Linked DNA regions of Homo sapiens. The protein of the gene in region 1 interacts with the protein of each later gene in a biochemical or structural test. Each region holds a gene or a part of one and is shown in the gene's direction. Other genes may lie near its edges.

Evidence for each region. Proteins that work in one complex are often made in the same cells at the same time.
Region 2: of the proteins of PPP2CA (region 1) and MAPT, one has a biochemical effect on the other in vitro, tested with the Homo sapiens proteins (2 studies listed by BioGRID).
Region 3: of the proteins of PPP2CA (region 1) and MID1, one has a biochemical effect on the other in vitro, tested with the Homo sapiens proteins (2 studies listed by BioGRID).
Region 4: the proteins of PPP2CA (region 1) and RBL2 form a complex in vitro, tested with the Homo sapiens proteins (2 studies listed by BioGRID and IntAct, with this or other methods).

What each region holds. Positions count from the first base shown.
Region 1 is NC_000005.10:134,195,074-134,198,573, reverse strand, and holds part of PPP2CA (serine/threonine-protein phosphatase 2A catalytic subunit alpha isoform), read left to right. Parts: intron 1-729; coding exon 730-802; 3' UTR 803-3,500. UniProt on the Homo sapiens protein: Catalytic subunit of protein phosphatase 2A (PP2A), a serine/threonine phosphatase involved in the regulation of a wide variety of enzymes, signal transduction pathways, and cellular events.
Region 2 is NC_000017.11:45,981,554-45,985,053, forward strand, and holds part of MAPT (microtubule-associated protein tau), read left to right. Parts: intron 1-1,312; coding exon 1,313-2,377; intron 2,378-3,500. UniProt on the Homo sapiens protein: Promotes microtubule assembly and stability, and might be involved in the establishment and maintenance of neuronal polarity.
Region 3 is NC_000023.11:10,610,586-10,614,085, reverse strand, and holds part of MID1 (E3 ubiquitin-protein ligase Midline-1), read left to right. Parts: intron 1-3,500. UniProt on the Homo sapiens protein: Has E3 ubiquitin ligase activity towards IGBP1, promoting its monoubiquitination, which results in deprotection of the catalytic subunit of protein phosphatase PP2A, and its subsequent degradation by polyubiquitination.
Region 4 is NC_000016.10:53,461,971-53,465,470, forward strand, and holds part of RBL2 (retinoblastoma-like protein 2), read left to right. Parts: intron 1-581; coding exon 582-685; intron 686-2,255; coding exon 2,256-2,393; intron 2,394-3,467; coding exon 3,468-3,500. UniProt on the Homo sapiens protein: Key regulator of entry into cell division. Directly involved in heterochromatin formation by maintaining overall chromatin structure and, in particular, that of constitutive heterochromatin by stabilizing histone methylation.

The sequences.
Region 1 (3,500 bases):
TTATTAAGGGATTATGCTATGTCAGATTCCAACTTTTATTTTTAAGTTTTGTTTTTTTTTTAATGGATCTACATTGAAACACACCAACAGGAACTTATTATATATAGATCTTCGTATGAATTACTAGGTTTTTCACTTTTAAAACCATGTTTTGTGTTTTTTTGTTGTTTGTTTGTTTTTTGAGACGGAGTCTCACTCTGTCACCCAGGCTGGAGTGCAGTGGTGCGATCTTGGCTGACTGCAAGCTCTGCCTCCCGGGTTCACACCATTCTCCTGCCTCAGCCTCCCGAGTAGCTGGGATTACAGGCGTCTGCCACCACGCCCGGCTAATTTTTTTGTATTTTTTTAGTAGATATGGGGTTTCACCGTGGTAGCCAGGATGGTCTTGATCTCCTGACCTCGTGATCCGCCCGCCTCAGCCTCCCAAAGTGCTGGGATTACAGGCGTGAGCCACTGCGCCCGGCCAACCATGTTTTGTTTTGTTTTGTTTGAAATTTCAGTCAAGGTAAAAACCATGTTTTTATAAAAGCATAGTCTCTGTGGCTGAAGTTGCCTTGACTCTTTCAAGGGGAGTACAGTTAACAGACCATTATCATTAAGGTTCTGTTACATTAAGACAAGCCAAAATTGAATAGGAAGTGTAAAGTTTGGAAGACTCATGTTCTTGATCTTGATTGTCACTACATGGAGGTCGTGGAACATAAACCATGAATCGGTCTTGTTTTTCAGCTTGCAGTTTGACCCAGCACCTCGTAGAGGCGAGCCACATGTTACTCGTCGTACCCCAGACTACTTCCTGTAATGAAATTTTAAACTTGTACAGTATTGCCATGAACCATATATCGACCTAATGGAAATGGGAAGAGCAACAGTAACTCCAAAGTGTCAGAAAATAGTTAACATTCAAAAAACTTGTTTTCACATGGACCAAAAGATGTGCCATATAAAAATACAAAGCCTCTTGTCATCAACAGCCGTGACCACTTTAGAATGAACCAGTTCATTGCATGCTGAAGCGACATTGTTGGTCAAGAAACCAGTTTCTGGCATAGCGCTATTTGTAGTTACTTTTGCTTTCTCTGAGAGACTGCAGATAATAAGATGTAAACATTAACACCTCGTGAATACAATTTAACTTCCATTTAGCTATAGCTTTACTCAGCATGACTGTAGATAAGGATAGCAGCAAACAATCATTGGAGCTTAATGAACATTTTTAAAAATAATTACCAAGGCCTCCCTTCTACTTGTGAGTTTTGAAATTGTTCTTTTTATTTTCAGGGATACCGTTTAATTTAATTATATGATTTGTCTGCACTCAGTTTATTCCCTACTCAAATCTCAGCCCCATGTTGTTCTTTGTTATTGTCAGAACCTGGTGAGTTGTTTTGAACAGAACTGTTTTTTCCCCTTCCTGTAAGACGATGTGACTGCACAAGAGCACTGCAGTGTTTTTCATAATAAACTTGTGAACTAAGAACTGAGAAGGTCAAATTTTAATTGTATCAATGGGCAAGACTGGTGCTGTTTATTAAAAAAGTTAAATCAATTGAGTAAATTTTAGAATTTGTAGACTTGTAGGTAAAATAAAAATCAAGGGCACTACATAACCTCTCTGGTAACTCCTTGACATTCTTCAGATTAACTTCAGGATTTATTTGTATTTCACATATTACAATTTGTCACATTGTTGGTGTGCACTTTGTGGGTTCTTCCTGCATATTAACTTGTTTGTAAGAAAGGAAATCTGTGCTGCTTCAGTAAGACTTAATTGTAAAACCATATAACTTGAGATTTAAGTCTTTGGGTTTTGTTTTAATAAAACAGCATGTTTTCAGGTAGAGCTTAAACTAAATGATGTGTTTACTTAGTGCAGTTTCTGGTTATGAATATTATATTGCTATGTGTATATTATATGGACTCTTTAAAATGATTGACAGATTGGCAAATTCTTAAATCTTTGTACATTGTTGAGTCATATGTTCTTAGAGTTAAATTTGTCTCAGATAAGAAAGTGTTAAAGCATTAGCCTGTGTCAAGTTCTTTGAGTGATACTAGTGAAACCAAATAGAAAACTATTGTTGGATCATGATTTAGTCTTATGTACATTCACCCGAAGACAAAAATGGTACTTAAAGTGGCAGTGTTCAACATTTAATGAGTTTTTCCCCTTTTATCCTTCGAATAGGATTAGATGTTTAAAAAAAAGTTCTTCTGTGGGAACTAATATTTGATATTTTAACCTACCAGAGTAAACAGGAACACTTAATCATACTTGTGAGTGTAGTAAATAAAAGTTTTCTTGCTTTGTGCTGTGTTGAATCTGGAACCAACAGGGAAGTTATAGCATATCCCCTTTCTAAAATGCTTGAGGAACACATACATACCGAATGTCTTTTCTGATCTAATTGATAGTATTTTTAGTGGCTTGTGGAGTTAATTTTCCAAAGCAAAAGGCCATTAGGGTTTCTACATTTCATTTCATTTCATTCTTTTCTTTCACAAGAAATACATTCTCTGTGTGTCTTTTTGTTGCTCTGTCACTCTATGCCCTTTCTCTCCGACTGAACAAATAGCTTATCCATGTGCAGTGGTTTTAATACCCAAACAATCTAGACACCAAGCAGCTATTTTTTCCGGTCCTGTGATATCAGAATTGACCAAGGAATACGTATATTGTAATTGACACGTGGTGGTATCTTCCAGGTACAAATTCTCTAAATTTTGTGGTTAGCAGAATGGGACTTGTGATAAGAATAGCTTGGTTTTAGCATAACTAGGGTTTAAAATAATTGTTTAATTATAGAGACTGACCGGGCTTTGGCCATCTAAACTGGAAAGTGTTAGTACCCTACCTTCTTTTGAAAATGGCTATGGTAAGGAAAATGTGTTAGTAAATTATGTATTTTCTTGAAAAATACATAATTATGGTTGGATGGGAATCACTAAGTTGGGTGTTAACTGATGTCTCAATTAGTAACATTAGGATTTTCATTAATAAACCTAAAAAGCTTTCCCTAAGAACAGGCCTGGCACAGTGGCTCATGCCTGTAATCCCAGCACTTTGGGAGACCAGGGTGGGTGGATCCCTTGAGGTCAGGAGTTGAAGAGCAGCCTGGCCAACATGGCAAAACCCCATCTCTACAAAAAATATGAAAATCAGCCGGGCTTGGTGGCATACCATAGTCCCAGCTACTTGGGAGGCTGAGGTGAGAGGATCGCCTGAGCCCAGGAGATGGAGGTTGCAGTGGGCTGAGATTGTGCCACTGTACTCCAGTCTGGGTGACAGAGCCAGACCCTGTCTCAAAAATAAAGAGGATTCTGAGTTTGTATAGTGAGGGCTTGCAGAAATTTTGAAACTTATTTTGTAAGTTTACAATGAATTTGTACATGATGTGCTCATGTCTTGGGTTGAGTATCCTAGACATGATTTTTTCATTTGCTGCATATTAAACATTTGTTGGTTGTAGTCGGTATTTCTTAAATAGAAGTTTGTCAAT
Region 2 (3,500 bases), on another chromosome or scaffold:
TGTCTGTGGTCAGTGACCTGGATAGATCTGAATGGGGCTTCTTTTTCGAGGAGTCTTATGGCAGGTCTCTCAGTAAAGACTCCATTCTTGATGATCACACATTTTGGATTTTCCAAATCTGTCAGAGAATGGGCTTGAGGCGGGGTTTGTGGGCACTAGTTTCACTGGTTTCATTTACCAAAAAGGGGAGCAGAAGTCAAGTATGGTGGCTCATCCCTGTAATCCCAGAGGCAAGAGAATTGCTTGAGCCCAGGAGTTCGAGACCAGCCTGAGCAACATAAGGAGACCCCGTCTCCACAAAAATGAAAAATAACATTTTAGTCAGACGTGGTGGCATGCATCTGTGGTCCCAGCTGCTTGGGAGGGTGAGATGGGAGGGTTGTTTGAGCCCTGGAGTTAAAGTTGCAATGAGCTGTGATTGCACCACTGCACTCTAGCCTGGGTGACAGAACGAGACCCTGTCTCAAAAAAAAAAAAAAAGAAAGAAAGAAAGGAAAAAAAAAACTCATGCCTGTAATCCCAGCACTTTGGGGACCGGGGTGGGCAGATCACGAGGTCAGGAGATCAAGACTATCCTGGCCAACATGGTGAAACCCCGTTTCTACTAAAAATACAAAAATTAGCCAGGTGTGGTGGCACGTGCCTGTAATCCCAGTTACTCGGGAGGCTGAGGCAGGAGAATCGCTTGAACCAGGGAGTCAGAGGTTGCAGTGAGCTGAGATCGTGCCACTGTACTCCAGCCTGGGCGACAGAGTGAGACTCTGTCTCAAACCAAAAAAAAGGGGTGGGGGGCGGGGGCAGGAGAACAGTGAGAGGTAGGGAGAGGAAAGGGGATTCTCGCTACACCCAAACCAGATACCATCTAGAGGCTAGAATCTTTGGGAGGCTCAAATTCCCTAGAAAGCAGGAGAAGCTTCTGTAGCCCTCCCGCTTTCCCAGTAGATTAAGCCCAGGGCGGCTCCAGATGTGTGACATGCTCTGTGCCCAACCAGAGCCCATCATAGGCAGAGGAATAACACCCACACCAGAAGGGCCCTCGGAGGTCACCACGTCCAAGAACCCTCTTTACAGATGAGGAAACTGAGGCCCAGAGAGGGGAGAGCCACCTAGCGAGCTGGTGGCGGCTAGACCAGGAGAGCTGTCATTCCAAGCAAGCAAAGGCAACGAGACGAGCCCAGAGCTGTGCTCCCATCTCTTTGTTAGGGGGCCTGGGATGCCCTCTCAGTGTCATTTTGTCCAGGATGATGCTCCCTCTCTTAAGCGATTAATGCGCCCTTGCTAACCTTTTGCTATCGCTGCCTCTTCAAACCAGAGGAGTTGAGAGTTCCGGGCCGGCAGAGGAAGGCGCCTGAAAGGCCCCTGGCCAATGAGATTAGCGCCCACGTCCAGCCTGGACCCTGCGGAGAGGCCTCTGGGGTCTCTGGGCCGTGCCTCGGGGAGAAAGAGCCAGAAGCTCCCGTCCCGCTGACCGCGAGCCTTCCTCAGCACCGTCCCGTTTGCCCAGCGCCTCCTCCAACAGGAGGCCCTCAGGAGCCCTCCCTGGAGTGGGGACAAAAAGGCGGGGACTGGGCCGAGAAGGGTCCGGCCTTTCCGAAGCCCGCCACCACTGCGTATCTCCACACAGAGCCTGAAAGTGGTAAGGTGGTCCAGGAAGGCTTCCTCCGAGAGCCAGGCCCCCCAGGTCTGAGCCACCAGCTCATGTCCGGCATGCCTGGGGCTCCCCTCCTGCCTGAGGGCCCCAGAGAGGCCACACGCCAACCTTCGGGGACAGGACCTGAGGACACAGAGGGCGGCCGCCACGCCCCTGAGCTGCTCAAGCACCAGCTTCTAGGAGACCTGCACCAGGAGGGGCCGCCGCTGAAGGGGGCAGGGGGCAAAGAGAGGCCGGGGAGCAAGGAGGAGGTGGATGAAGACCGCGACGTCGATGAGTCCTCCCCCCAAGACTCCCCTCCCTCCAAGGCCTCCCCAGCCCAAGATGGGCGGCCTCCCCAGACAGCCGCCAGAGAAGCCACCAGCATCCCAGGCTTCCCAGCGGAGGGTGCCATCCCCCTCCCTGTGGATTTCCTCTCCAAAGTTTCCACAGAGATCCCAGCCTCAGAGCCCGACGGGCCCAGTGTAGGGCGGGCCAAAGGGCAGGATGCCCCCCTGGAGTTCACGTTTCACGTGGAAATCACACCCAACGTGCAGAAGGAGCAGGCGCACTCGGAGGAGCATTTGGGAAGGGCTGCATTTCCAGGGGCCCCTGGAGAGGGGCCAGAGGCCCGGGGCCCCTCTTTGGGAGAGGACACAAAAGAGGCTGACCTTCCAGAGCCCTCTGAAAAGCAGCCTGCTGCTGCTCCGCGGGGGAAGCCCGTCAGCCGGGTCCCTCAACTCAAAGGTCTGTGTCTTGAGCTTCTTCGCTCCTTCCCTGGGGACCTCCCAGGCCTCCCAGGCTGCGGGCACTGCCACTGAGCTTCCAGGCCTCCCGACTCCTGCTGCTTCTGACGTTCCTAGGACGCCACTAAATCGACACCTGGGTGCAGCTGCTCCACTCCCTCGGCCTCCTCCCGTGCTCAGGCTGTGGCCGCACGCGCCCCTCACGCTTGCCCGCCACTCTGCATGTCACCAGCACCCCCGCTCCGTGCTACCCACCTTGTTTGACTCTCTGGCCACTTGATTTGTCCACAACGGCCCATCAGCCCACAGGAGGTTTGGTGGGTGCCTTCCACCGACAGGATGACGGGTGCCCTCATGGTGTCTAGAACTCTCCAACCCTCCCATGTAGGCATAAGCAGCCCCACTTTGCAGATGAGGAAACGGAGGCTCAGAGAAGTACAGTAACTTGCCGAAGGCCAATGAGTAGTAAGTGACAGAGCCAGGTTTGGGATCCAGGTAGGTTGTCTCTGAAAGACACGCCTGTCCTGCATCCCACAACGCCTCCCAGGAGGTGCTGGAGTGTGGACGCCTAACACAGAGATGTGCAGGGCACACACAGCAGGTGACACACACAGCATCCAGAGGTGGCCCAGAGCTCATGCTGTGCCTTTGGCCCAGTGCCCTGCCCCCACCCACTCTGCCTTGTGGCAGGAAGACAAGGAGCAGACACAAGATCTCCCTGGTCCACATGCCACCACCTCCCTCTGCAGAGGACAAGGGGATCCTCATGCTGGCATTGGAGGGGGTTGAGCAGGGCCCACCTTGAGCCCTCAGGAGCACGACCACAGCAGCCCTGCAGGGAGGGATTGGTGGGAGGAGAGTCCCAAGTATCAGGGAGAGGAGAGTTGGTGTCCCACAGGAGACCTCAGAGCCACAAGGCGAGCTTGTTCATAAATTTGGGACCCTTAGCATTTCACAGTTATTTGCAGAGCCCAGAAATGGATGTTACTGAAGCTCACAGTTGCAAGCATCTGTTAAATTTTTATTAGATTTTACTTTTAGGGAAAACTTTGAAATGCTATAAAGAAGCCTGTGTTTAAAAGTTAAGACAGAGGCTGGGGGCGATGGCTCACGCCTGTAATCTC
Region 3 (3,500 bases), on another chromosome or scaffold:
GTCACATATTAATTACCTTTGAATCCCCAGACCCAAGCCCAGTGTCTGGCACACAATAAGAATCATTAAGTGTTCTACAGGCACATGCTGGGTGAATTTTAGTAAAAAAGAGAATGGAAAATGCTCCTTAAAATCCGAAGGGATATGAAGAAGAAAGGGCATTAGAAAGGTCCGGGAAACAGCAAGGACTAAATAGATCAGTAGTAGAGAAAATTAGCATAGGTTATGATTACTGAACTATATGTATATGGTTTTATATATATATAGTCCATTTATATACACATAGTCTCTCTCTGTCTGTCTGTCTGTCTGTCTGTCTCTCTCTCTCTCTCTCTCTCTCTCTCTCTCTCTCTATATATATATATATATATATATATATATATATATATTCCTTTCAGTTGTGTTCTGGGCAAGAACACAACCCAAAACATGGTAAGCAGCTTGGCTTATCCTCTGTTTGATTGTTCTGCAGAAATGATTACGAAATGGGTCATGCCCTCCAATAGCTCAAAGCCTAATCGCCAAGATAGAATCTGCTGCTTTCTCTCATTGAACCCAGCCTGATAGTTTAGGCCTTAGGTCCATGTGCAGTTGTTTAATTTTGCAGGTGAGTGGCATGCCCAAGGTTACTCCAGAACTGAGATAGCGTGTCTGAGAGAAGACTGAAGCCTTCTCCATGTAGATGGTGGCCACATTTTTCATAGTGAAGTTCAAGATTTGTGCCGGACAAAGCATTTTCATTGCTGGTAGGTGTAACAGACCAGAAGTTATAGTTAAAAATGACAAAATAGAAATTTCAGGGACATTTAATAGTTTATGGAAACAACAGGACTAATATATTACCAAAGGGTCTATGCGGTAGACTGTGGTATCTGTCCTATGTCAAGTTTTGGAGTGTTGCTTTGGTTGTGTGTATTTAGAAGTGGTCTTCCCCAAACAATTCGGAGGAAGGGGGATGTTACTGGGAAAATGGAATTCATTGAATGCCCTGCTGAGTTAATAATAAGTAGATGAATGGCCAAATAAAGCAATATATAGATGGACGGCACCACCAAATATTATTAATAGAGATTTATTTACTTACATAGGATCAAGTCTTCTGTACGAAATACATTAGGAATCCAGACTAAGAATACTGGTTAAAGTTTAGCATTTCTGGGTTGACGTTTTAGCACAAGAAACACTTTACCCTCCATCTGGGAGCAAGGTATGAGGGAGACTTAGGTTCTACACCTAGAAGCTAAGTCTTCTAGACTCCCCATCTCATTCTCTTTTGTGACTGTACCACATGCCTTCTACTAAGATATAATTTGGATGTTTTCAGGTCATGTGCTATAATTCAATATGCTAATAAATTCCAAGGCAATTTGAATGGAATGTTGGTTTATAATGAGGCAACTCAGGAAAGACTACATCATCTTTAGTGGAAAATACTGTCCAAAAAATCCAAATAGTTAAATGATCTTATATTTGGGTTTTGTGCTTCTTTTATGTGTATATTCTTTGCTCTGATTTTAGTTAAGTATGAAAATGTCAGACAGCAAAAACTAGGAGGATTATATTTATATAAAAGAAAGTTTAGGGAATGAGATGAGTCATTTAGCCCATGAATTAATCAGCTGTGCTTTGAGGAAATAGTGCAGGAAGGTAAAATGGAACAAATAGACGAGAGAAGAAAGCGTGACTTCTTTTAGTCAACATATGATGGGGAAAGCGGTAGAGAAAAATTGGCTATTTGGTGAGTGATTCACTTGAGTTCCTTTTCAGTGGTCAATGTTTAAAGTGAAATCCTAATGAGATTGTTGCTGCCCTTTTTGTACGGCTCTGACTAAAAGAGGGAAAACAGTCATAATAATTAATTGAGAGGGGTATGACTTTCTGAGTAGATAAAAACATGATAGACTATTAGATAATGAATATTTATTGCTTGATGCTTCTCAGTCTGGAAGAGACACTTTCTGAATATTTCTCCGCTTTCTAACATTTCAGCTGTCAGAATTGAATGGTTCACATATAAACTACATTGTTTTGGTTTAACTAACAAAGAGTGATAAGACATGAATTGTTTGTGACAGCCCCGAACATTGATAACAGAAGACATTAATGCCTGCAGACACAGCCTACATGGTAAAAATCTGGAAACAAAAATGCTTATTATGTTAGGCCATCGTGCTTTGACCTAGTTTTGCTTTTCTGCTTGGAAATTATGTCAATATTAGTTACATCATCCCTTCGGATGAGCAATTCCACATTCTTGTTTATTTCAGTGTCATATTATTAGTTTTTGTATATTTAGTTCTGACCTCTGAGGAGCCAAACTAATCCTCATTGACTTGCATTTTCCTTTTGAAATGAGACTTCTGCATGATAAAGAGAGAGGATTTTATGTATTAACAAAACAATCTAAGATGCCTCTTTAAAGGCATTCATTTCTCCTTGATCCGGAGCTACTGCCCTCTTGAAGGTTCCTAGAGGCCATCCAGTTTTCTGCTGATCAGAATTAGTCTTTTTTTCTTTGTCTTATGGGGATGGAATAGATTACTGGGCCTAGAACTGCCATAGTTGAATAACAAAAAGTAAAACTGTGAGGCTGATGGGACATTTCCCAGCCCATCATCCTTAAATTTGCCCTTTTCATGTTTCTGCTTTACTTCTTCATCCAGCAGAAACGGGCTTAGCATATTTTTCCCATTTAACATTTTTATTGAATACTTTTCAAAATGAATTATTTCCGCAGTTGATTTCGAACACATTTTTTTCTGTCATTTAATACTTTATATCACTAGAGGAAAGAACCATTTAATTCTTTCATACATTTATGAATTCTAATCTTCAAAGAGTGTGAGTTCTTCAAGTGATCAACTTACATCAAATTTACAAGTATAATTTACTACCAAAAGACCTTGAACGCTTTTTGGTGCACATGTTTTGGCATTCCTTATTAACAAATGTAATGAGGCAAAAGCCCACAAGAATATGTATTCCTGGTTCCTCTTTAAAAATGTACCATTTGCTCTTATTTTCTAATTAAGGCTTTGAAGGTTAAAAATCCCTTTGTTGTTAGCTCCTTTACAAGTCTCCTGCCTGAGTGCAGAAAACATAAGAAGGGAGTGTCCTCTTCAGAGCATAACCAAACCAACTAAATTTTAACCAGGTAAATTGTTGATTAGCATTGGATCATGTAAAGAAACAGTATGAAAGTAATTGAGATAGGCACAACTCCTAATTGTGTGATCCCAGGGGGCTTCAAACATTGTTTGAAACATTCACCTCAGAGATTATATTCCATGTCTGATCCTTATGCTAATTTGAATACTAGGATCCTGAAGAAAAACTTTATAGGATTTCTTGAGTCCCTAATTGGTATGTAAACATCGTCATTCCCAAGCTGCCCAAAGTTGTGAATTATAGTATACCATGTGTCTCCTGTTGTGATATCAATTTCTACAGCAATTTTTCTGCTTGTTGTAGGCAAATGTAAATATATTTCCCTCCTCTTA
Region 4 (3,500 bases), on another chromosome or scaffold:
GCTGTCCAATTTTTCTGGTCAACCAACTGATTTCTGAGCCCTTCTCAGTAAGATAGAAATTTTAGAATGGTATCTTTATTATATTGGACTTCTGATGCTTTTTTATCTGCAAATCTTTAGGTTTTTTTTGTAAACTGGAAATTAAATAGAAGTGTAGTGATTCTTCAACATATTGAGAATAAGGACAGGAGATATCACTGTTATGGGCCCAAACCTGGCCTAGGAATTGTTTGCTGTCAGGAATTGGAACTAAGTAGGTGTGGACTAGTAAGCCAATTACATACCTCTTAGCATTGGTCTGTTTTGTTCAAACATAGAGGAAAAAAAAGGGTGTTAGTCTTAAATGATATTACAGTTCCTTATGTGCAAATTTCATTTAATAATTTTAGAAAAATGTGACTGTTACCATGAAGAAAATTAAGGTATCTTAGGGATAATTAAAACACCAATCATAAGAAGTGTGCATATCTAAAGTATTGGGTTGGTTTTGAATTTTATTTTGTGAGTAAAGGAGGAGGAATGGGCCTTTATTTTCTTTGTGTGCCATTTTTGTGGGGTTTTTTTTTTTATTATTTCTACAGAAATTGCCAGCAAACATTTTCGTTTTGCGGAGATGCTTTACTATAAAGTATTAGAATCTGTTATTGAGCAGGAACAAAAAAGACTAGGAGACATGGATTTATCTGTGAGTAAAATAACCAATGTATTGATCAGCGCAATGAAACATAATTTCCTTCCTGCCCTATTCTGTGGGTTGTTTTTTTTACTTTATATATAGTCTCCTTTCATACACAAAAGTTTTTAATTTTGATGAAATCCAATATATTTTTTCACTAGTTGCCTGTGCTTTTGTTTTATGTATGTATGTATGTATGTATTTACCTATTTGAGATGGAGTCTTGCGCTGTCGCCAAGGCTGGAGTGTAGTGGCACGATCTCGGCTCAATGCAACCTCCGCCTCCTGGGTTCAAGCAATTCTCCTGCCTCAGTCTCCCAAATAGCTGGGATTATAGGCATGTGCCACCATGCCCAGCTCATTTTTGTATTTTTCGTAGAGATGGGGTTTTGCCATGTTGGCCAGGCTGGTCTTGAACTCCAGACGTCAGGTGGTCCGCATGCCTTGGCCTCCCAAAGTGCTAGGATTACAGGCGTGAGCCACCGCACCTGGCCTGTTGCCTGTGCCTTTGGTGCTTCAGTAGCTTTTAATTAAAAAATAATAATTATTGACAATGTTGGAAAATTATAAGCAAAAAGAACAAAATAAAAATCATCTATGATTAATGTCATCCTATGATAAACATATTCACTTTTGGTACATGGTCATCTAGCCAGTCACCTGCCTGCCTGCCTTTCTGTTTTTTTGGGTTTGTTGTTGAGACAGAGTCTCACTCTCTTGCCCAGGCTAGAGTGCAGTGGTGCAATCTCGGCTCACTGCAACCTCTGCCTCCCAGATTCAAGTGATTCTTGAACAGTGTTGCCTGGGCTGGTCTCAAACTCTGGACCTCAGGTGATCTGCCTGCTTCGGCCTTCCAAAGTGCTGGAATTACAGGTATGAGCCACCTGCCTGGCCCCTTTCAATATTTTTTTTTCCTTTTTTTTTTTTTTTTTTTTTTTTGAGCCAGAGTTTCGCTCTTGTTGCTCAGGCTGGAGTGCAGTGGTGCAACGTCGGCTTACTGCAACCTCTACCTCCTGGGTTCAATTGCTTCTCCTGCCTCAGCCTCTGAGTAGCTGGGACTACAGGTGTGTGCCACCACACCTGGCTAATTTTCTATTTTTAGTAGAGATGGGGTTTCACCATGTTGGTCAGGCTGGTCTCAAACTCCTGACGTCAGGTGATCTGCCCACCTTGGCCTCCCAAAGTGCTGGGATTACAGGCGTGAGCCACTGCGCCCGGTCCCCCTTTCAGTTTTTTATAGCACTTACTGTAAATACTGTTTTGAAACATCTTTCCCTGTCATTGTTCTTCTAAGCATCAGTGTGTGTGTGTATTTTGGTTAGAGATGTAATCTCTTTTAAGATACATTTTATAATAGGTAAGGTTTTAAAATTCTCATACATTCCTTTTATATATTTCCTCTACTAAAAAATGGGCTTTATTTATATAATTAAGAAAGGTTTTGTAAGAAAATAAGGACACACTTTGCACTCACTCAGAAAATGAGACTTTCTTTGGTATTTTCACTTAAGTTCACTGGGTATGAAATGACTTTTTAGACTAAGTAAATGTTTCTAATGCTAATAACTTTATTTTATAGGGTATTCTGGAACAAGATGCGTTCCACAGATCTCTCTTGGCCTGCTGCCTTGAGGTCGTCACTTTTTCTTATAAGCCTCCTGGGAATTTTCCATTTATTACTGAAATATTTGATGTGCCTCTTTATCATTTTTATAAGGTATTTTTAAAAATATGATACTAATGGGGATATTGTAGATGAGACCAACTTCCTGTTGTTAGTCATTTAGTTCAAGTTAACATCTAAGAACATTTATTCTGTTTTTATTTACATAGTTAATCTCTATTTGTGGAGTAGAAAAGAAATAGAATCTTAAGACCTATGTAAATTCTTTTAATATTGTATGAAAGATCTATTTTGGGTAAAAGCTTTGATTCCTCTCTATCTAATAAAAGTTTTTAGAATACTGTGATTTTTATGAGCTGAGAAGGCTTAAAAAAAGTAGCACACATGTCACTAGCTAATCTTGTATAGCAGCCTTTTTTTATTTTATGAAAATTAAATACCATTGAAAATGTCAGAAAAAAAATAAAAAGTTCTCTTTCATGTGTTACAGAGAGGCATAGAGTTAAAGCATTGATTTGGTAGCTAGTTCTTTTTTTTTTTTGAGATGGAGTCTTGCTCTGTCGCCCAGGCTGGAGTGCAGTGGCGCCATCTCAGCTCACAGCAAGCTCCACCTCCTGGGTTCACGCCATTCTCCTGCCTCAGCCTGCCGAGTAGCTGGGACTACAGGCGGCCGCCACCACACCCGGCTAATTTTTTGTATTTTTAGTAGAGACGGGGTTTCACCGTGTTAGCCAGGATGGTCTCGATCTCCTGACCTCGTGATCTGCCCGCCACGGCCCCCCAGAGTGCTGGGATTACAGGCTGGTAGCTATTTCTTGATACTGACTTAGCATATGAGTTTATCTTAACTCTCATAAGATAGTCAAAACTAATTTTTATAGTGGCATAGATTAAATGTTTAGAGATTTTTATATGAAATTTTAAGAGTAATGTTTTTCAACCTCAATGTACAAAACATGTATTTTCATTAAAAAATTTTGAAATACATCACAATGTAAACCATTTTATATAATTCATAGTTTGAACTATAATTATTTACAAAGACAGTAAAAGGAAGAGCGGCTGTTTCAAAATAATACTTCAACTTGTAATTTTGACTAATTTCTTGTCTAAATATTTAAAAATATTTAATAATTATTCAGTGAACCAAGACATTTTTTATTTCAGGTGATAGAAGTATTCATTAGAGCAGAAGATGGC